Homo sapiens: one gene and its partners. The protein of the gene in region 1 purifies or fractionates together with the protein of each later gene. This does not show direct contact. Each region holds a gene or a part of one and is shown in the gene's direction. Other genes may lie near its edges. The genes, in order: LBR, WDFY1, C1orf198, E2F3, HAUS2 and GAN.

Evidence for each region.
Region 2: the proteins of LBR (region 1) and WDFY1 purify together in Homo sapiens (co-immunoprecipitation; one large-scale study listed by IntAct). This does not show direct contact.
Region 3: the proteins of LBR (region 1) and C1orf198 purify together in Homo sapiens (co-immunoprecipitation; one large-scale study listed by IntAct). This does not show direct contact.
Region 4: the proteins of LBR (region 1) and E2F3 purify together in Homo sapiens (pull-down; one large-scale study listed by IntAct). This does not show direct contact.
Region 5: the proteins of LBR (region 1) and HAUS2 purify together in Homo sapiens (affinity purification with mass spectrometry; one large-scale study listed by BioGRID and IntAct). This does not show direct contact.
Region 6: the proteins of LBR (region 1) and GAN purify together in Homo sapiens (co-immunoprecipitation; one large-scale study listed by IntAct). This does not show direct contact.

What each region holds. Positions count from the first base shown.
Region 1 is NC_000001.11:225,407,539-225,411,038, reverse strand, and holds part of LBR (delta(14)-sterol reductase LBR), read left to right. Parts: intron 1-622; coding exon 623-748; intron 749-3,500. UniProt on the Homo sapiens protein: Catalyzes the reduction of the C14-unsaturated bond of lanosterol, as part of the metabolic pathway leading to cholesterol biosynthesis.
Region 2 is NC_000002.12:223,935,336-223,938,835, reverse strand, and holds part of WDFY1 (WD repeat and FYVE domain-containing protein 1), read left to right. Parts: intron 1-3,500. UniProt on the Homo sapiens protein: Positively regulates TLR3- and TLR4-mediated signaling pathways by bridging the interaction between TLR3 or TLR4 and TICAM1.
Region 3 is NC_000001.11:230,841,022-230,844,521, reverse strand, and holds part of C1orf198 (uncharacterized protein C1orf198), read left to right. Parts: intron 1-625; coding exon 626-1,168; intron 1,169-3,500.
Region 4 is NC_000006.12:20,485,379-20,488,878, forward strand, and holds part of E2F3 (transcription factor E2F3), read left to right. Parts: intron 1-1,310; coding exon 1,311-1,425; intron 1,426-2,734; coding exon 2,735-2,870; intron 2,871-3,500.
Region 5 is NC_000015.10:42,558,838-42,562,337, forward strand, and holds part of HAUS2 (HAUS augmin-like complex subunit 2), read left to right. Parts: intron 1-501; coding exon 502-571; intron 572-1,944; coding exon of another isoform or gene 1,945-2,033; intron 2,034-2,432; coding exon 2,433-2,565; exon of another isoform or gene 2,566-2,853; intron 2,854-3,500.
Region 6 is NC_000016.10:81,321,462-81,324,961, forward strand, and holds part of GAN (gigaxonin), read left to right. Parts: intron 1-3,500. UniProt on the Homo sapiens protein: Probable cytoskeletal component that directly or indirectly plays an important role in neurofilament architecture.

The sequences.
Region 1 (3,500 bases):
CCTTTTTAAATTTTACCTAGTTTTAGGCTTGGAGTTGCAGATAGAGAGCAAAGAGTTCCCTTCCACCCTTCATTCTGTTTCTCACAACATTAACCTTGGAGGAAACCGTAGTGTAGTGATGAAGAACAGCAGATTAACATAGTGACAGCATTGGTTACCAAGTCCACAGGCCTCAGTCGAGTTCACCAGTTTTTCCGCTGTTGTCCTTTTTCTGTTCCAGGAACCTCGACAGGACTCCACAATACATTTAGTTGTTATTCCTTCTTAGTCTTCTCTAGTCTAATAGTTGTTTAGGCTTTCCTTGTCTCTCATGACCTTGATACTTTTTGGAAGGTACTGGTTGGTTATTTTGTAAGTGTCCCTCAGTTTGGGTCATTCCAGTGTTCTCTTTGATTGCGGTAAAGTTACCCACTGTGACAGGAACACAGAAATGATAGCTGTGTCCTTCTCAGTGCATTGGGTCCAGGGGCCCATGGTGCTGAGATGTCTTATTCCTGGTGGCGGGTAGGAGTTACGGTGGCGTCTGCCAGGTGTCTCAGCTGTGAAGCTCACTCATGCCTTTGTAGTGCTAAGGTCTCTGGGGAGGTGCTTTGAGGCTATATACTTTCCCCTTTTGTTTCAGGTGGTTATTAACTTGGTGATGCTTTTGGCTGAAATGAAAATACAGGACCGCGCTGTTCCATCCTTGGCCATGATTTTAGTTAATAGTTTCCAGCTTCTCTATGTGGTGGATGCTCTCTGGAATGAGGTAATTAATTTTAAGAGCCGAGGCCTTGGAGTCAGATGGCTTTGAGTGGGTGAGTGACCTGTCAGAGCCTCGGCTTCTTGCACACAAAGTGAGGGGAGCATGGCCTGCCTCCAAGGCTGCTTGAGAGGAGGACGAGGCCATCCATGTGAAGCTGACGAGGGAGCACTGACAGGTGGGAAGTTTCTAGGCATTTGGGAGTGCTTCAGTGTTTATCAGCTGTTCTTGTGTTTAAAAGTAATATTCTAAATATTTAAGATTGGTGGATCTTGGTTTTGTTTTTGTGGGTGGTGGTAATTATGGTATCACATGAAAATGGATGGATTATTACTAAATTAGAATGGTGTTTCTTGGACTGTCAAGAGTCACCTAGTTTTTAAATAATGGGGGAGATGTTTTATTGTTAATGTTTTAAAATACAAAGACTAGCTCTAATTAGATGAATGTAAAATCAGAAATCAAGATGCATTGAGGAAACCAGTTGAAATAAGGCTAAGTTTCCATCTTGTGTCTTTTTTCATACATTGATTAGTCTTTCTACTAGTTGAAGACTGGTAAATGTTTTGTTTGTTTTCTCTGTCTCAGCCAGCATATTCCTTTTAAAAATTTTGTCTTCCTCAGGCTTATTTTACAAGTATTTTATCGTATTTACTGTTATCTTTGTAATTATCTCCAAATTCCAACTCTAGTTTTCTTTCCATATTAAAAACAAATCTGGCAGCTGTACATCATAATGTTCCAAAACAAGTTTTAGTGACAGTCTGTTGAGACAATCTGCTGACATTTTGAGAGAAGACCTTTTCTCTTTGAGCCTGGAACATTAAAAAAAATTATATTATTTGGTCATCAATACTATGTATCTCCCCCACCCCTGCTGGCTGGTCTTTAATTTTGGCCTTCTATGCAAAATTGCAGAGAACATTTAGTCAGAACAACTTCGCAAGTTTGATATTGGTGTTTCGATGATCTCCTTGTTATTTAGGAAGATTAGGGCCACTTTGAGGTAAACCTCAATTACAAGCGGTGGGATTAGTGCTATCCGCTAATTACGGGTTCCTGTTGCGCTCCTACCACTTCACAGACCCTGGCTCAGAGCTTGGGAAGCTGTGAAGGTGGTGATAACACTTCAAATTGACTTTAAAAATTCCACGTCGACCCAAAATTAAACATGTTTTTGAAATTAAAAAACAACTGTTTTGTAAATGCACTTACTGTTACCAGTGTAGCTTTGTTTGCTGTTATAGAATGAATCGCCAAAAGAGCATATAGGTTACAGTTTGCAAATCAAATGATATTTCACAGTTGTGCTCACCTCAGAGGCTTCTTTAAACCTTCCTTTCTAGTAGCTTTCCACTGATCAGTGATTATTTCTTCTGGTTTCTTCTATTACTAGCTTTCTGCCATGTTGTGGTTGTCACTTTTTAATTGGCTTAGAAGTTGATATTTTCTATAGATTTAGCCAAACATTGACTTGTGTTAAAAGAAAATTTTTTGCATCTTAAGGCAAAACGCTTAATGCAATATTAACATAGCCCCAGGGGTAGAGAACTAGAGTTAGGAAATTGTTTTCTGTCTGTTCTCAGTATCTCAGCCAGATGATAATAAGCTTCTTGAGGAAAGATTGTATTTTATGATTTCTTCAGCATTCTGGCATGCCACTGGGCAATTAGCAGATGCTTAATAACTTCTGTCAGGTCACTTGATAGAAATCCCTCTGTATTCAAGAATGTGCTATACCTTAAGAAAACTGAGACTACCTGTTTAAATATGCATGACCCTTCCTCTGAGCCGTCCTGTGAAAGCCTTGGGGCTCAGGAGCTGGTGGGGCTAAGGTCCTCCCCCTACCCGGCATTGGGTGCTTACCCTTTGCCCTCTCACTGCCACTCACCACACCTGCTTTTATCTGCTCCCACCAATTTGTCACCTTTATCCTCTTTTGGACCAGGAATCAGATCACAGGCCTTGAGAGAGAAGAATAAGACACTCTTGGGGACAGAAAGTTAAAACACCGTGTGTCCTCACTTATATGTGGGCGCTAAAAAAGTTGATGTCATAGAAGTATAAAGTAGAACAGAGGATATGGGAAGGTGGGAAGGGTAGGGGGAAGGGAAGGATAGGGAGAGGTTTGTTAAAGGATACAAAATTACCACTCGATAGGAGGAGTAAGTTCTAAGTTCTAGTATTCTATACCACTGTAGGATGACTATAGTTAACAGTGATACATAGTTTCAAATAGCTAGAAGGATATTGAATATTCCTAACACAAAGAAAGAATGTGTTTGAGATGATGGATATGCTAATTACCTTGATTGGATTACTATATATTACATGTATTGCAACATCACTGTGTACCCCATAAATATGTACGATTATTACATGTCAATTTTTTTTTTTAAAGAGAATAAAGTACTCTGGTTAACTAAAGAGTATAAGCCTAAGGAGCTAGATTTTGTGAGATTGGTTTTTCTGTTTCATGTGACATCTGTTTTTCTGTTCCATGGCCTATTTGCTTTCTTTTCTGGAAAAAAATGCTATTTAGAGGTACCACTCTTTTTCTTTAACCTAGAACTTTGATTCTCCAACAGAGCTTATACTGGCTAATATTTCTACATCAGTGGTCTGTACTGAGGTTCTGGGTAGTTTAGAGATTCCCTTAGGCCAGACCTTCAGAGTGTTGACCTTGGTGGTGGTTCCGTATTCTAGAGTCTGGCCTGCCCGTATCCTGGGCCAGAGGCGATCTGGCTCATGCTAACCA
Region 2 (3,500 bases), on another chromosome or scaffold:
TTTTTTTTTGTCACCTTCTGGGATATATTTACCTGGGGTCATTCACAGATAGCCACCTAGTTCACTGTAATCAAACTGCATATGACAAAGCTAGATACGGTCAGCACTCCAAAGAGTATTAAGCCAATGTGGAATATCAAAGCTTAATGCCATTACACCTGGGAGTCACAGGTCATTAGTGGTTTGGGTGGTCAGCTTAGGGTTCTGCTTAGAAACCTTTATGGATTAATGTCTCGTGAATGGTTAATAGAAAATGGTACTACTTCTTGTATGAAGTCATTAGTATTTTGCTGAAGTAATAATTACCTTAAGCTCTTTAATTTAAATTTAAGTTTAAGAATTTGAACTACAGTGGTGACTTTCCTGGTAGGGGAAACAGAAAATAAGACTCTGCTTTCAGAGCGGAACTAAAATGGTGAGACAGTAGGAACCAGTATGTTTGCTTTTTGGACTTTTTTGCTGTGGACTGCACCAAAAATGTAGACAGTCAGTTGATTGAATGATACAATTTTTAAAAGGTAAAAGCTTTATAAAGCCTTATAAATAAGTTAAGGCTATAGGCCTACTGTCTTCACTTTTGAGAAATAGAGTTTGTGGATGGACGTACTTATACTGTTGCATTAGGGGCTCGTAGGCCAAGATTGGTTTCTGCAGGAAACTCAATTTTGTTTGTCCCAAGTTAAAGATAAATCTCATGTGATTTAAAATGTTTTGAGATGTTGCACTTAGGCTGGGAAAGAGTAAAGATTACAGAAAACCAACTTTTAGATGTTTTTTAGCATTTTCCTTTTTTAAAAATTATACCAAATATGTAATATATTTGCTTCCACTTAGATATATCTAAGTTTATTAAGATGGTTTGGGGAAAAATTTGTGTATTTACCAATTGTTCACATAGAAACAATCTTAAATAAATAACTTGATTTTTAAGTGTTATGCCTGGGAGGAAGGCTGGCATAGCTGGAATTCATTAGTTAATACAGAAAACCAGGATGTTAACTGCTGTATTTTCATTGTCATGCAGAGCCTAAAAGTAGACTTTAATTTGTGTTATAAAATAAACTGAAGACTTGAGAAGGCAGGAAGCCTGGGTGGCCACCCCACACATTTACTCCTGTATTGTTAGGGTGATCCTTCATTGTTACAATCATTTTCTTTTTATAGCATAGTTAAGAACAAAGGCTTGGGAGCCAGAATGCCTCAGTTTGAATCCCAGCCCTGTGATCTTAGACAAGTTATTTAACCTCACTGTATCACAGTTTTCTCATGTGCAAAATGGACATGAGTCCGTTTTGTACCTGCTTTACAGAGTTTTGTGAGGATTAGGTGAATTAAACCACGTGGAACAGTGCCTAGCACAGAGAAAACATTATGCAAGTGTTAGTTGTTATTGTTTTCATTCCCATTTATTTTCCATTTAATTGCTTTAATCTTAAAGACTGGGACAGAGAAAGCACTATACAAGTGTTAGCTATTATTATTTTCATTTCCACTTATTTTGCATTTTGTTACTTTAATCTTACGAAAGAGTAATATGTTTCTACTTTGTATGCATGTTTGTGTGTGCACGTGAATAAGTGAAAATAAAAAAATTTTTCCTGTTTGAATAGGACAATACCATTTGAGGGGTTATTTACAATCCTAAATTCTTAGAACTGCCTTTGAGTCATGCCTTTTCTTTATTTCCATATTTGGTTACTTGCAGGTCATGTCAGTGATTAGTTTCACTTAGACATCTTTCCCCTGCTATATTTGAGATCCTCAAGATCGGGTTCATTGATTCACTAGAAAGATTGACACATTATAGTCATACGCATGGCTGTGATTTATCATAGCCAAAAGACGCAAAACAAAATCAGCACATGGGGTGAAATCCAGAGGAAACCAGACACAAGGCTTCCAAGAGTCCTCTTCCTGTGGAGTCACAGGACAGGCTAATTCAGATTGAATTAAGACAACATGTGTGAAATATTGTTTATCAGGGAAGCTCCTTAGAGACTTTATTCAGTGTTAGAGGCTGGTCATGTAGGTGCCCTTGGCTAATGTTCCAAAATTCCAAACTCTCAGAAGGAAGGTAGGTGGTCAACATAAACCACATATTTTATACAGGCATGAAGCACAGTGAGCCATTCTTAGGAGTTAGGGAATGGTGAGGTCCCCTCTGGATAAACAAGGTCCCAGACACCTGCCAAGGGCCAACCTTGCAAGCAAGACTTTCTAAGGACAGCAGCAGCAGGCCTGCTGTGGGAACTCTTTTCTGCCCACCTGCCCATAATTACCCTAGTGTTTGTCCTCATCATCTTTTAAACCTCATTTTTCAAAGCCTATTAACTGGCTTCCCTGAGTTCCAGCATACTGTACTTGGATCTGTCCCACTAATCTCCTATCTTTAACTAGGCTTTTATTGTGTCTTTTTCCTGCTCATGACCTTTCATTAGCTCCTTATTTAATCATGTCTGTAAAAGGACTTTGGGGGCCGGGCGCAGTGGCTCATGCCTGTAATCACAGAACATGGGGAAGCTGAGGCAGGCAGATTGCTTGAGGCCAGGAGTTAGAGACCAGCCTGGCCAACATAGTCAAACTCTGTCTCTACTAAAAATACAAAAATTAGCCAGGTGTAGGGGCTCATGCCTGTAATCCTCCCAAGAAGCTGGGCTGAGGCACGAGAATTGCTTGAACCCAAGGGGCATAGGTTGCAGTGAGCCAAGATCATGCTGCTGCCCTCCAGCTTGGGCAATAAAGCAAGACTCTGTCCCCAAAAAAAAAAAAAAAAAAAAGGACTTTGGGAACCCCATAACTGCTCCCTGCTAAGCTTTATTTCCACCTTCTATCTCTCATTTATTATGGTTCTTTTGTGTCCAGTGAAGTCAGTGTGTGTTCTGTCCCACTCACACCTGGTACATTTCCCACCTGGGTGCCTTTGCCTCCCTCACCAGGAACCTCACTTGCCCTCTCTCCTGTATTCAGACCCTCCTTCATCTCCTAGATCCACTTCAAGTTCCACCTCCTCCATTGAATAATTCTTCCCAGCCCATCATTCTCTGTCCTTTCTGAGCTTCCTTCAACACTCCTAGTATATTACTGATGATGCCTAGTTAATTACAATCAGGTATTAGTTCCTGTTGCTTTGTGTTTATTCATCTTATCTTCCCACATAGTCTGTACTCCACCAGGTACTGCATAACTAGCTACTGGTTGAATGATACAGACTTAACCATTTCTGCACAGTAGACATTTCCTCTGCTGTGTTTAGCTTTAATAATCTGCTAGTTCTTTCCTAAGAAGCAGATGGTAATATAATGAATGATACTTGTTTCTAGAATTTAGGTATTCATCTTCCCTCTCTACAAAGTATGCTCAGCAAATCTTTCTGAGAGTTGTTAAGACATTATTAGCACATATATACTGATTTCATGATGTATTTTTGTCATACTTCATGGTGAAATAATCTCTTTATTCATTTTTCTTTGTCAACCACATACTACTTTGCTCAAAACACT
Region 3 (3,500 bases), 5.4 Mb from region 1:
TGTTTTAAAGAAATACCTGAGACTGGGTAATTTATAAAGAGAGGAGGTTTAATTGGCTCACGGTTCTGCGGGCTGCACAGGAAACATGGCATCGGCATCTGCTTGGCTTCTGGGGAGGCCTCAGGGGGCTGTGGCTCATGGTGGAAGGCGGAGGAGAGCAGGTATCTCACATGGCAGAGCAGGAGCAAGAGGGAGAGAGTCAGGGGGAGGTGCCACACCCTTTTAAACGACCAGATCTCATGAGGACTCACTATCATGAAGACAGCACCAAGCCATGAAGTCACCATCATGAAGACAACATCCGCCCCTGTGATCCAGACACCTCCCACGAGGCCTCACCTCCAGCACTGGGGATTACAGTTCGACATGAGATTTGGGAGGGGACCACCACCCACACTCTGTCACCCGGCCTTGGCATTTAAGCTTCTGATGCATTTCAGGTGTGCGATGGGAGTCCTGACCATACCCACCACTCAGGACAGACAGTTCCAGCACATGGGCAACAACTCGTGTGTGGCTGGTGTGCGTCCTTATGCTGAGGAGGGGTGCGTGAGCTGGCACACTTGTGACGGTCGATTCTCAGGATCTCTTTCTTTTTTCTGTCCTTTCTCATGTCCCACCCTAGAGTCAGATGGAGTTCAGTATCTCCGCCCTATCCATCCAGGAGCCGAGCAACGGCACCGCCGCCAGCGAGCCCAGACCACTGTCCAAAGCTTCCCAGGGCTCCCAGGCCCTCAAGTCCTCCCAAGGCAGCAGGTCCTCCAGCCTGGACGCCCTGGGCCCCACCAGGAAGGAGGAGGAAGCGTCATTCTGGAAGATCAATGCTGAGCGGTCCCGAGGGGAGGGGCCTGAGGCCGAGTTCCAGTCGCTGACCCCTAGCCAGATCAAGTCCATGGAGAAGGGGGAAAAGGTCTTGCCTCCCTGCTACCGGCAGGAACCTGCCCCGAAGGACAGGGAGGCCAAGGTGGAAAGGCCCAGCACCCTCCGTCAGGAGCAGCGTCCTCTTCCCAACGTGAGCACCGAACGTGAGAGACCCCAGCCTGTCCAGGCCTTCAGCAGTGCACTGCACGAGGCTGCCCCCTCCCAGCTCGAGGGGAAGCTGCCATCTCCTGATGTCAGGCAGGACGATGGGGAAGACACCCTGTTCTCGGAACCCAAGTTTGCACAGGTGAGTGGCCTTTACCAGCGCGTCCTCAGATGGGATGGTGCCTTATTCCACGGGAACCGAGAGGGTCCCCCACAAAGCAGGCAGGCCACAGGTGCCCATGCTCTTTTTCTTCTCCTTCCCCTGCCTCTTCCTCAGAGGATGCCTAGGCTCAGGGTGCTGAGCCACCAACAAATATGCAACAAGACAAGTTTTGCGAGTCCATCTGGGTGCCCTAATTTGTTTACCAGTCAGGGTTCCGTGGCCCACTGCGCTTTCCCCAGTGCGCGGGCTGCTATCAGAAGAGGCCCCTGGAAGGCGCTGCGCCCAGGGCTGTCACAGCTCAAAGCTGTGTTGGGCCTTCTTTTTGGGAGCTGTCCATAGAGGCAATGGTCTGTTCTTTAGGACTGGTCTGGATTTGGGCCAGGGGAGCTGCCTGTTGGCAAAGCAGGCAGGCACACTTGAGAGGCCTCACTGGGTCTTGCCCCTCTGTGGGCCTCGCTGGGCTCCTGGCTGCCTTGCTGAGGAGTGAGCCCAGGATGCAGTTGCCTCCATGGTAGCCTCACCCATCCTCCTCTGGCCCTTGAGACTCCTTGGTTCTTGTGGGTCACTCTTTTTTTTTTTAATTTTTATTTTTTAAATTTTTTATTTCCATAGGTTTTGGGTGGTATTTGGTGACATAAGTTCTTTAGTGGTGATGTGTGAGATTTTGGTGCACCCATCACCCGAGCAGTGGACACTGAACCCAATTTGTAGTTTTTTATCCCTCACCCACCTCCCACTCTTTCCCCGAGTCCCCAAAGTCCATTGTGTCATTCTTATGCCTTTGCATCCTCATAGCTTAGCTCCCACTTATGAGTGAGAACATATGATGTTTGATTTTCCATTCCTGAGTTACTTCACTTAGAATAATAGTCTCCAATTACATCCAGGTCGCTGCAGATGCCATTAATTCATTCCTTTTTTGGCTGAGTAGTATTCCATCGTATATATATACCACAGTTTCTTTATCCACTCATTGATTGGTGGGCATTTGGGCTGGTTCCATATACTGAATTTTAAAAGTTTTTATTATGGTAAAATATACAAACATTTACCATTTTAACCATTTTACAGTATAAATTTGGTGGCATTTCAGTACATTCTCAATGCTGTGTAACCATCACTACCATCCATCTCCAGAACTCCTTTCATCCTGCAGAACTAAAGCTCTGGACCCGTTCAACACTAACTTCTCATTCATCCCTCCCCGCAAGCTCCTGGCAACCACCATTCCACTTTCTGTGTCTGTGAATTTGACTCCTCTAGGTACCTCATATAAGTAGCACCATATAGTATTTACCCTTTTGTGACTGACTTACTTTACTTAATGTGACGTCTTCAAGGCTCATTCATGTTGTAGCAAGTGTAGAATTGCCTTCTAAGGCTAATATTCCATCGTGTGGTTAGACCACATTTTGTGTATCCACTCATCCATCGACAGACACTTGGGTTGCTTCCACCTTCTGGCTATTGTTGTCTGTTAGGAATAGTGCTGCTGTGAACGTGTATGTACAAATAAGTCTTCCAGCCCCTGCTTTCCCTTCTCCTGGGTGCATACCCAGATGTAGAATTGCTGGATCACATGGTGGTTCTATTTCTACTTTTTTGAAGAACCTGCATACTGTTCGCCACAGCAGCTGCGTCATTTTACATTCCCATCAATGTGGGTTCGCGTTTCTCCACTCCCTTGCAACACTTGTTATTTTCTGTGTCTTTGCTGGTGCCATGCGAAGGGGTATGAGGTGGTGTCTCACCGTGGTTTAGACTTGCCTGTCCATGATCGTGAATGATGTTGAGCCTCATTTCATGTGCTTATTGGCCATCTGTGTATCTTCTTTGGAGAAATGTCCAATGGTCCCTTGCCCATTTTTAAATTTTTGGTTATTTTGTTGTTGAGTTGAGATCATCACTGATAACATTGAATGTCCCCCAGAGCAGGTTTCCAGTACTTCCACACCTCCCTCGGCAGATGGCTGCACGTGCTGTCCTCCCGAGGAGGGAGGATCCAGCGGTGCTAGTACCTTCTGCCCACCTCGGCTCCACATCAGTGCTCTAGCCTGTCCTCTTCGTGTTTCTGCACCTTCTTAAGCTAGTGCTTTCAGCCCTCTTGTTTCCTGCCTTCTCCGGTACCTGCCCATCTCTCCGTTCTGTTTTCTGTCTCACATCCTCCTGCCCATCAGCTCCTCCTTACAGACAGGCTCAGTTCCCTGCCTCCCTAACCAGCACTCTTTCTCTGAGACTCGGCACTGAGGGCTTCCTCTGAAAGAAGTATTTCCATAAAATAGGTGATAGTCCCCACTCTAAAGAGAAGCAG
Region 4 (3,500 bases), on another chromosome or scaffold:
GACCAGCCTGGGCAACAGGGTAAAACCCCATCTCTACTAAAAATAAAAAAAATTAGCCGGGTGTGGTGGTGCACGCCTGTAGTCCCATCTGTTTGGGAGGCTGAGGCACGAGAATCATTTAACCCCAGAGACGGAGGTTGCAGTGAGCTGAGATTGGGCCACTGAACTCCAGCCTGGGTGACAGAGCAAGATTCTGTCTCAAAAAGAAAAAGGAAATAACTACCAAGAGTACTGAGATATTATACTTTTCTCTTTTCCTAAATCAGTGTTTCTCAAATTCATTCAAGTCGCAGAGCACCTGGAAACTGCTTTCTTCCTCATGAACACTGAAATATTGATAGAGTTAATATAGTATCACGCAAAGCATAATTTTTCTAACAGAAATAATGACACTCTTTTCTGTAGGCAGTACATAATCACAACCAGCCCAGGTGCACTTAAGAAAACAAGCTGTCTGCCTGAGCAGTATTCTGAGTTCCTCCACTAATGTATTTGTTACTTATTTATTTACTTGGTGGCTGCTGACACTTGCTTGTAGATAGAAGTAACTGGAGTTTCAAAAAAATTATGGCTAATAGAGATTACATTTTTTTTTCCTGCAAATTGGAATCTGCCATCATTCAGTTTGAGTGACAGAACACTTTATTGGAGTTCATGGAATGCCTGTGCTGCAAAGGACCCTGGCTTCAAGATAAAATTTCTGACCACTTAGTTTTTTATTTTCTTATGATCATTTATTTTAACTGTTCTGTTTCTATGTTTAATATTTTAAATAGCCATAGTCTTTTTAGAAATGGGCGGGATAAAGCTATTCATTTCTTTAGTTGTTTAGAGTGTCAACCAGAAATGAAGATTCATGGGAGACCCTAAACATTTGCACATCCAGAAGGGGAGACATACACATACTTTTTTGAGAAGGAGTCTCGCTCTGTCGCCCAGGCTGGAGTGCAGTGGCGCGATCTCGTCTCACTGCAAGCTCCACCTCCCGGGTTCATGCCATTCTCCGGCCTCAGCCTCCCGAGTAGCTGGGACTACAGGCGCCCGCCACCACGCCTGGCTAACTTTTTGTATTTTTAGTAGAGACGGGGTTTCACCGTGTTAGCCAGGTTGGTCTCCATCTCCTGACCTCATGATCCACCCGCCTCGGCCTCCCAAAGTGCTGGGATTACAGGTGTGAGCCACCGCGCCCGGCCACATATGCATACTTCTAAGTCATAAAATACTTTAAAATATTCCATGCATCTATTTTGTCATTTTCATCATACTTATATCTGAGGTAATTAGATGGAAGATTCCTTGACACTCTTTACGTTAGCTTATGTTACATATCAAGATATTCGAAAAATTAGTGGCCTTAAAGACCAAACTGTTATAGTTGTGAAAGCCCCTCCAGAAACAAGACTTGAAGTGCCTGACTCAATAGAGGTAAGGAGACAGCGTCTTTGTTCATCTGCAAAGATCTTTGTGGAATGCCTGAAATTGAATGACTCATTGACTCATAGTTAAAGTCTGTCCCCCTCCTATGAACTTGATGGTTCTTTCCCATTTATTTTACTTAACCATACATTTGAAAACATTTCAATGGTTTGATGTTCATTGAGTATTCAAACAACCTAACTTTGACCTAGCAGGATGTTCAGTTCAAAGTGGTATATGATGCGCTGTCCCTCTCATACTTTCTCTTTTTCATAATTTGTCATCAACGGTTTTGATCAATTTGAATCACTTTGGAAAGTTTATATTGATTATCCTGTATATGGTCCCCACCACGAACAGATATATAAATGTTTTAAAGTCTCTCCCTAACTTATAACATTTTGAGAGATCACATGGGGCTTTGGGTTAGCTGATAGACTAGAATATTGCAAGAAAGTAGGGGGCATATTTTTGTAATTTTCAGATATACTTGGATAATAGAGGCCTAGACTACAACTATAACATAAAGAGTTGTAGTAAAAAGAAAATGCATAGGAGATAAAAAGAGAATGAAAGTTACACGCTTCCATCTAGGGTAGACTTCTTACCTTAAAAGATAATAATAGCTCTTTGACCTAGATGAAAAAGATTTTTAAATGTTGGTATGCTGCATTCTCTTAATAGATGCAGTTCCTAGCACTTAAGAATACTATTCATCAGTATACAGTTCAACATGAAAAAGTCCTACCATAAAGGAACAATAACATGGAGATACTGAATTTGGAACACTTAAAGGACCTTGTAATAATTTGCAGAAAAAGAATATATCCAAAGAACACAATTCACCTCACCCATTGTGCTATTTTCAGAATGACTCCCCTCTCCCCCAAGCCCCACTAAAATAGTTTTCTTTCTCTAGGGCAGGACTCAGCAAACTTTTTCATTGAAGTGCCAGGTAGATAGTAAATATTTTTGGCTTTGCGAGCCGTACAGCCTGTGTCTAGACTATTCAACTGTGCACCTCTGACATTGTGATACGAAAACAGCCAGAGGCAATAATAAACAATGGGAATGGATGTGACTCTCTTCCAATAAAACTTTATTTACAAAGCCACTTGGTGAACTGGATTTGGCCCTTAGGCTGTGGTTTGCTGACCCCTGCTCTAGAGGATGACAGTCTTTCATAGAGTTGGACTAGTAGGGAAAAAGCAAGTGAAAAACGAACATTGTTCTTACTTTCCATTTTTAGACAAGAATTACTATGGCTTTTATTTCTAAAAGAACTTCTGATTCGAACTTCTCCCACTTCTGTTCATAGAGCCTACAAATACATTTGGCAAGTACCCAAGGGCCCATTGAGGTTTACTTATGTCCAGAAGAGACTGAAACACACAGTCCAATGAAAACAAACAACCAAGACCACAATGGGAATATCCCTAAACCCGCTTCCAAAGGTAAAAACTCCACTTTTGTCTTTTAGAAACTATGTTAAAAATGAGGGTGACTAGAACCATCTGTATTGGAACCACAAGCCTAGGCAAGAAACACAAACTTCTATTGGTATTAGGTAACATGTTTTAAAAGACATTCTGACTGGTTTGCAGAAGAAAATAATGATTTGGGAAAAACGGCTCCTTCACCCACTTATGGAGTCGCTTCAGGCTTTTGCTATTGGCAGAGAATGTTTCCTTACAGCATTTTTGAAAACCAGCTAAAGTGAGGAGCAAAGCTGTGAACTGTCTTGTTGGATCATCAGAGACACTTGGCCACACACCTTTGAATCACACTGCAGAGCTCATCAGAGAGGGAAATGAAAAAGGTTTGAGGAGAAAAGCCTTTGTTGGAGAATTTTTGTCTTATTTTCCCCCCCAATGAGATGGGGAGAGGATATGGGAGGAGAACGCTAGGAAAGTAAGTCTTGCCGGGTGCGGTGGCTCACACCTGTAATCCCAGCACTTTGGGAGGCCGAGGCAGGCAGATCACGAGGTCAGGAGATCGAGACTGTCCTGGCCAACACAGTGAAACCCTGTCTCTACTAAAAATACAAAAATTAGCTGTGCGTGGTGGCACGTGCCTGTAATCCC
Region 5 (3,500 bases), on another chromosome or scaffold:
GTCCCAGCTACTTGGGAGGCTGAGCTGGGAGGATCACTTGAGCCTAGGAAATCGGGGCTGCAGTGAGCCATGTTTGGGCCATTGCACTCCAGCCTGGGTGACAGACGGAGACCCTGTCTCAAAAACAAAAAAACTTTATTGGTTCAAACAGCAATTCCTTTGAACTTAGAACAGTGTCTAGCACATAACTAGCTAGCTACATGTTTACTTACTAATAGTAGTTACAGTAATAGTAGTAAGAGTAGCAGCAGCAGGGCAAGAACAGCAAAATGAAAAACTTCAGTAAATCCCCTGGACTCTTTTTTTTTTTTTTTTGAGACAGAGTCTCACTCTGTCACCCATACTGGAGTGCAGTGGCACAATCTCGGCTCACTACATCCTGACCTCTGGTGATCCACCTGCCTCAGCCTCCCAAAGTGCTGGGATTACAGGAGTGAGCCACCGCACCTGGCCATGGACACTTTCTGATTGAGCTAAATGTTACTTTTGTTCCTCATGTAGAAAAACCTGGAAATTGAACTCCTGAAACTAGAAAAAGATACAGCAGATGTTGTTCATCCTTTCTTTTTGGGTAAGTGGTTTGGTTAAGTGGATAATCACTGGAATTTCAACTTTTTCTTGGATTACTGTAAATAAGCACCAGTCAGTCAAATTATGATACACCATCATTTTTCCAGGTGTTGTCCCAAAGCTAATGAAATCTTGTATTTCTATGCTGAAATAGAAGTTCTGTTGGCTTGAGTAGTACAAATAGCATAAAAAGTCACCAAATTGGCTCTTCAAAGTCAGGAGAACTTGAAAGACAAAGTCTGAGGAACTTTTCAGATTAAAAGAGACTAAAGGGACATGACAACTAAAGCACTGTATGATCATGGATCGATTTTTTATTTTAATGAGATGGGGTCTTCCTATGTTGCCTAGGGTAGTCCTGAATGGCTCAAGCAGTCCTCCCAAATCACCCTCCCAAGTAGCTGGGATCACAGGTACATACCACCATGGCTGGCAATGTTTTGAATATTTGATGAGAAAATGTTCTTGTGGCCAGGCGTGGAGAGTCACGCCTGTAAACCCAGCACTTTGGGAGGCCAAGGTGGGTGGATTGCTTGAGCCCGGGAGTTCAAGACCAGCCAACATGGTGAAACCCTATCTCTACAAAAAAAATACAAAAACTAGCCAGCATTGTAGCATGTACCTGTAGTGCCAGTTACATGAAAGGCTGAGGCAGAAGGATTGTTTGAGCCTGGGAGGTCGAGGCTGCAATGAGTTGTGATCGTAGCACTCCACTCCAGCCTGGGTGACAGAGTGAGACCCTGTCTCAAAAATTAAAATTCTTTTTGCTGTAAAGGACATTATTGGGATACTTAGTGATGTTTAAATATGGACTGTATTAAATATTGGTAGTATTGTATTAATGTTATTTTTTGAATTTGATAATGTGCTGTAGTTATATAGGAGAATGTTCCTCTTCTTGGGAAATACATGCTAACGTTTTACAGGTAAAAAATATCATGCTGTCTGCAGCTTACTCTAAAGTGGATCAGCAAAAATTAGAGAGAGAGAGAGAGAGAGAGAGAAGAGAGAGAAAGAAGATAAAAAGAAAATGTAGCCAAATGTTAATAATCGGTGAATAAGTAAAATGTATGTGTGAGTTCACCAAGCTTTTTTTGAAACTTTTCTGCAAATCTGAATTTTTCCAAAGAAGAATTTTAAAGAAAGGTCAATTGGCAGCCATTAACTGAATGGGGAAAATAATGAGATAATCAGAAATAGCTTGTAGGATGACTTTTTTTTTTTTTTTTAAGAGTGTGTCACTCTGTAACCCAGGCTGAAGTACAGGTCGCTGTAACTTCAACACGTGGTTTCAACTGATTCTCTCAAGTAGCTAGGACTACTGGCATGTGCCACCATGCCCAGCTAATTTTTGTTTTTTCAATTTTTTTGTAGAGATGAAGTCTTGCTATGTTGCCCAGGCTGGTCTCGAACTCATGGCCTCAATTCTCCCGTTTCAGTCTCCCAAAACACTGCGATTACAGGTATGAGCTAGAGCACCAGCTAAGGTGACTCTTTTTCGATGGTCTTTTATAGACTATTAGAGTCAGGGATAGGAAAAAAGACTTTGTGTTAAGAATATAGCTCTGGCTATAAGAACTGAATAAGAAGTAGAGATGAGAAACACAGAGAAAGAATTTAGCACTAGATTTGGTTATCACTAGGAAAAGAGATAATAGAAATATATTAGATATACAAAAACCGACTAAGAGAAAGTTGTTGAAAATGAAATTGGTATTGGTATTAAAGACAGCAAAAAGGAGACAGGAGGGTAATGATAGGATGAATTTTTGACATGGGTAGTGTCAAACCAAGGCAAAGAAGAAATTATTCTGTTATTTGTCCTATTGCTAACTATAATTACTGTTTTTTAATTTGTATAGCTCAGAAGTGTCATACTCTGCAAAGCATGAATAATCATTTGGAAGCAGTGCTGAAAGAGAAGAGATCCCTTAGGCAAAGACTGTTGAAACCCATGTGCCAGGAAAACTTACCTATTGAAGCTGTTTATCACAGGTTAGACTGAAAAGTAGAAATTAACAGTTACACCTGTTTTCTGAGTTTACTTTTTGTTTTGCAGTTACTTTGTAGCAGAATTCATAAAACAATTAGTGATTGTATTTGTTAACATTATTAATGGTGATATATTAAATCAGAAAGAAAATCTTTGCTTTTAAACCATTATACCTATGGCAAAAAGGAAGAACTTGGCCATCGTGTTTTGGGAATTATAAATTATGAGTTTAATGAAAGAAATTAGATCCATAACATGTAACAATAAAAACTGTTTGTATGTGAAGTAAATTCATTGTTGTAAAGTACATTCATTGTTGAGTTAATGTTGCCTATATGTAAAAATTCTATTGGCGGGGTTTAACTGGGGCAGATGAAAACACTATCAACTAAGGGAGGAAAAAACCTGGATTCTGTTCTCATCTCTACTGTTTATATGCCTCAAAGCCTTGAGCAAATGATTTACATTTTTGCCTTAGTTTCCCAATAAATAGAATAGAGATGAGTTCTATTGCCCTCTTCCTCACAGAGTATTACAAGTATCAAATTGAAGATGTAGATTATGACTAATGATAAATACTAGCCTGGACAACATGGCAAAACCCTGTTTCTACAAAAAAAAAAAATATAAAAATTAGCAACACATGATGGAACACACCTGTATTCCTGAGCTGGGAGGGTGACCTGAGCCCAGGAGGTCAAGTCTGCAGTGAGCTGTGATTGCACTAGCCTGGGTGACAGAGTGAGACCCTGTCTCAAATAAATACGAAGCAAGCATCTGGGGATCTCATTGCTAACTTTCTCCGCCAGTGCCTCACTAGCTTAAGCAAATCAGTATCTTAAGTGTCAGATTTTTTATTTTGTAGGAAAATAATAGATATACAAAAACTTATTCTTCCAAAAAAACAAAACAAGGCTGGGCACAGTGGCTCATGCCT
Region 6 (3,500 bases), on another chromosome or scaffold:
ATAATTTAGGATTGAAGTAAAATGCTCTTCCACATAGAAACTCTGGTTCCTTAGGATTTATATTTGGATGATATAGAGTAAGCATCCAGTTTTCAAAACCGCCTTATCCATTGTTTAAAGTGTTAATGAGTTCTTATGATATCAAAGTGGGACTTAAAATCTATTTATAATTTGTAAGGAAAACATAATTAGGACAAATAAGGGTTCATTTGGTCTGTGAGTGCCATGCAATAAGTTCTTCACAGGGTTGCATCATCCTTCTGAAAGACACAAGACTATCATTTTGTGTACTAAAGCTGTAATATAAATGAATGATTTGTGAGTTTGAATTCTGGGTTAAGGGTGGAGATACGGGGGTGTGAGATGTGACACGTGGCAGGCTATGGTTGCGACCTTGCATTTGAGCGCTTCCCATGGGTTCTCTTCCTCCTAAGCCACAACAAATCCAAAGAAGGAAGGAAATCAAAGGCTCAGGTAAAGGTGGCAGCTCTGGCTCTGTGGAGGATAAAGATTCTATGTCCATCTAGATGGCCCGACACTCTACCAGAGTTCCTGATTCTGGTGCTTGGAAGAGCAGAGTTAAATCATCTTCCTAAGTACTTAGGGCCAAAGAGTGACTTAGCCATAGAATGATGGTCAGATGTTTGCTGCATTCATTTCTCTCTGGGAATGTGAATGCCCTAATTTCTCATAAAGATTATTACAGAAATACTGCAAAATAGAAATACGTAGTACTTTGCCATTTGCTATTATAGTGAAGGGATTTGGACTTTTCCTCTGTTCAAATAAGTTAGAAAAATGGAATACTTAGGTAAATAAGATCTTGGTGAAATATTTTGTTGGTTATCTCCAGTGTTCACCACATGCAGAGGAGATAAGACATCTCAGCAGCGGCTAGGTACTAGCAAGATGGTGGCAACCAACTGGCAAGGCCTTTGCCCTTCTGGAGCCTCCATTTCAATAGAGTAAGGCTTAGAGGGCCAATGCGTATCATAAATGGAAGATAGGAGGACTAGTTTTTAAAAGTTGACTGTTGAATAATGAAATACAGACCAATTAAATATCTTTGGGGTTTATTTGGATTTGAGTTTTTATAGAAACTTAAATGTATATTTTTGCTCGTAGATATTTTGTGGTTCTCTCAACTACAAAGTTGTTTATGTTTTTAAGAACAATTTTAAAGACCATTTGATGCTTGTGATTTTTATGGTAACATATTAATATGACTAGATATATTTTGAAACATAGTTTTATGGTCCTATTAGCATTCATCAGTAACCAGTTGCCTACACCTCTGAATAATAGTAAATGGTTTAGTATTACTGAGCTCAAAATATTTGCACTTTTGTCACTTAAATTGTTTATATTGATCAGTCCCTGAATTGTAAGAAACTTCATACTGAAACCTCACATTTAGGCTGTGAGTTTGATATGAGTCTTTTCTAACCCACAGAGAACATTCACTAGAAATGAAGCCAGAAGTTTAAGGACAGCGGGATTTTGAAGGACAATGAAAATCCTTAGAAAGTTCCCTGATATTCGTGTTTGCCATTCTCCTCTCCATGCTACAGCCCCCAGTCTACTTCAGTGATGGAGCTGGAGGCCAGCAGGACCCATTGGTTAATTGTATAGTCTTCCATTTGGTTAGTCCAGGGAATAGTTTCCCACAACTTCTAGCTTCTCTTCCTTACATGAAAGTTGGTACAGGGATTTGACACTTAGTATAACAGATAAGAGACTTCTCTCGGGGTTTTTGGTGGGTTTGTTTGTTCTCCTGCTTGGCCTCCTTAACAGCTACTGTCTTGTGCGACCAAAGCTATCAACTTTGTTCCCCGCCTAAAAATTACAATGCCTGCTGTTGGTAGGAAAGGAATAGACATCTCATTTTTATCACCCCCTGAGTGGGGTGCTTGAGCAAAAGAGGTTACCATTTCCTTTATTTATAGGCTTCTTTCATAGTGATCAGAAAAGGGGTTATGAAAATATTCACTGTCATAATAAGTCTTGGGACATCCTTAAGAAATGTCATCACTGCCTTAACCCATATGCTGTGGGGTTGTGTTTACCAATAATAGATTGCAGTTCAAGAATTAGCATTGTCTAAAGTTATTGAGATATACTGTGTATTGTTTCTTCACAGATATATTTCACAGTAAAGGGACCTTCTATATAATTAGGGTGTTGTTTAGGGAGTTGATTACAGGTTTAGTCGTTTAATACATACACAGGAGATAACTCAAGACATCTCAGCAGCATCTATGTACTGGCAAGATGGTGGCAACGAACTGACAAGGCCACTGTCCTCCTGGAGCCTCCATTTCAGTCATTTACAGAGGATTGCGCCCTCCAGGACTCCATCCTCTTGTGCTGCCTGCCATTGGAGCATTGTATTCAGTGGCCTCCCACAGAGAGTATCAAAACTAACCCAGTATGTGGAGACCTATGTCAGTCTATTTATTTTTCTATCTCTGTGGGGCTGGAGAAGGAAATAAACATAAAACTAAAGATTTAAAGATTACTTTTGATTTCACTTAGTTTTTTTATAACATCCTTGTGTTATGGGTAGTTTCAGAATCTCAAGAATGAGCAGAGAATAGATTTGCTGTGTTTATCAGAGTAGAAACTTCTGATAGTCTGCCCTAAAAGAATTTAATTGGCTGATTTGACCCTTTATTATTATAGTGTTACCCCAATTAATCACATTTACAGAAATGACTTTCTTTAAGTAGAGAACATCAGTTCTTGGCTAAGCCTCTCTAATATGCCCGTTTGTTCATTGCCCTTTCTAGACGGAGTGCCAGCATCCATGGGGGCTACCTGGGGAGGTGAGCAGTAAAGGGGTCTAATTACAGAGCCATATGAGTTTGCCGAAGGAAGTCCACAGAGGATGAGCATGGCTGCTGCTGTGGCCTGGGTGACGGGATCCCTGCTCCGAGGTGGTGCCATTGAAACTGAGATCTGAGGGAGGAGGAGACCTAGGCATGAGAAGAGCAGGGGGAGGCACCAGGATCAGGGGTGGCACCAGGACTAGGTCAGGCCTCTCTGGGAACAGAACACCACATACCTGGAGATGGTGAGCAAAGGGTGGGATGGCATCGACAACAGATTAGAGGCTGGGAAGGCCTGTGATCCCTGAGTTAGAGCTGGCATTTAGACTGCTTCCAAAGAAGATGAAACTTCTGCTGCCATGTTGTGTATTGGGAGCTGGCTGGGGAGGTGATAGGATATGAGAAAGGGACAAAAAAGCAATTGATGGCATAGTTGAGTCTGATAGAGAGTTTAGGCTTTATCTTACGGGCTATGGATGGGCAGTGGTGTATTTTAAAAGAGGAATATTTGTTTGTGTATTGTTTTAAAGTCACTCCAATGCAGTGCTGCTGGGTGTGCTCTATAAAAGCCAAGAGTGGAACCAGCGGCCGTTTCAGCAGGTGCTGCAGTTGTTCAGATGGAAAGTGGGATGCCCTGGGCCAGGTTTGGCAGTGGAGGCGGACACAGCAGCT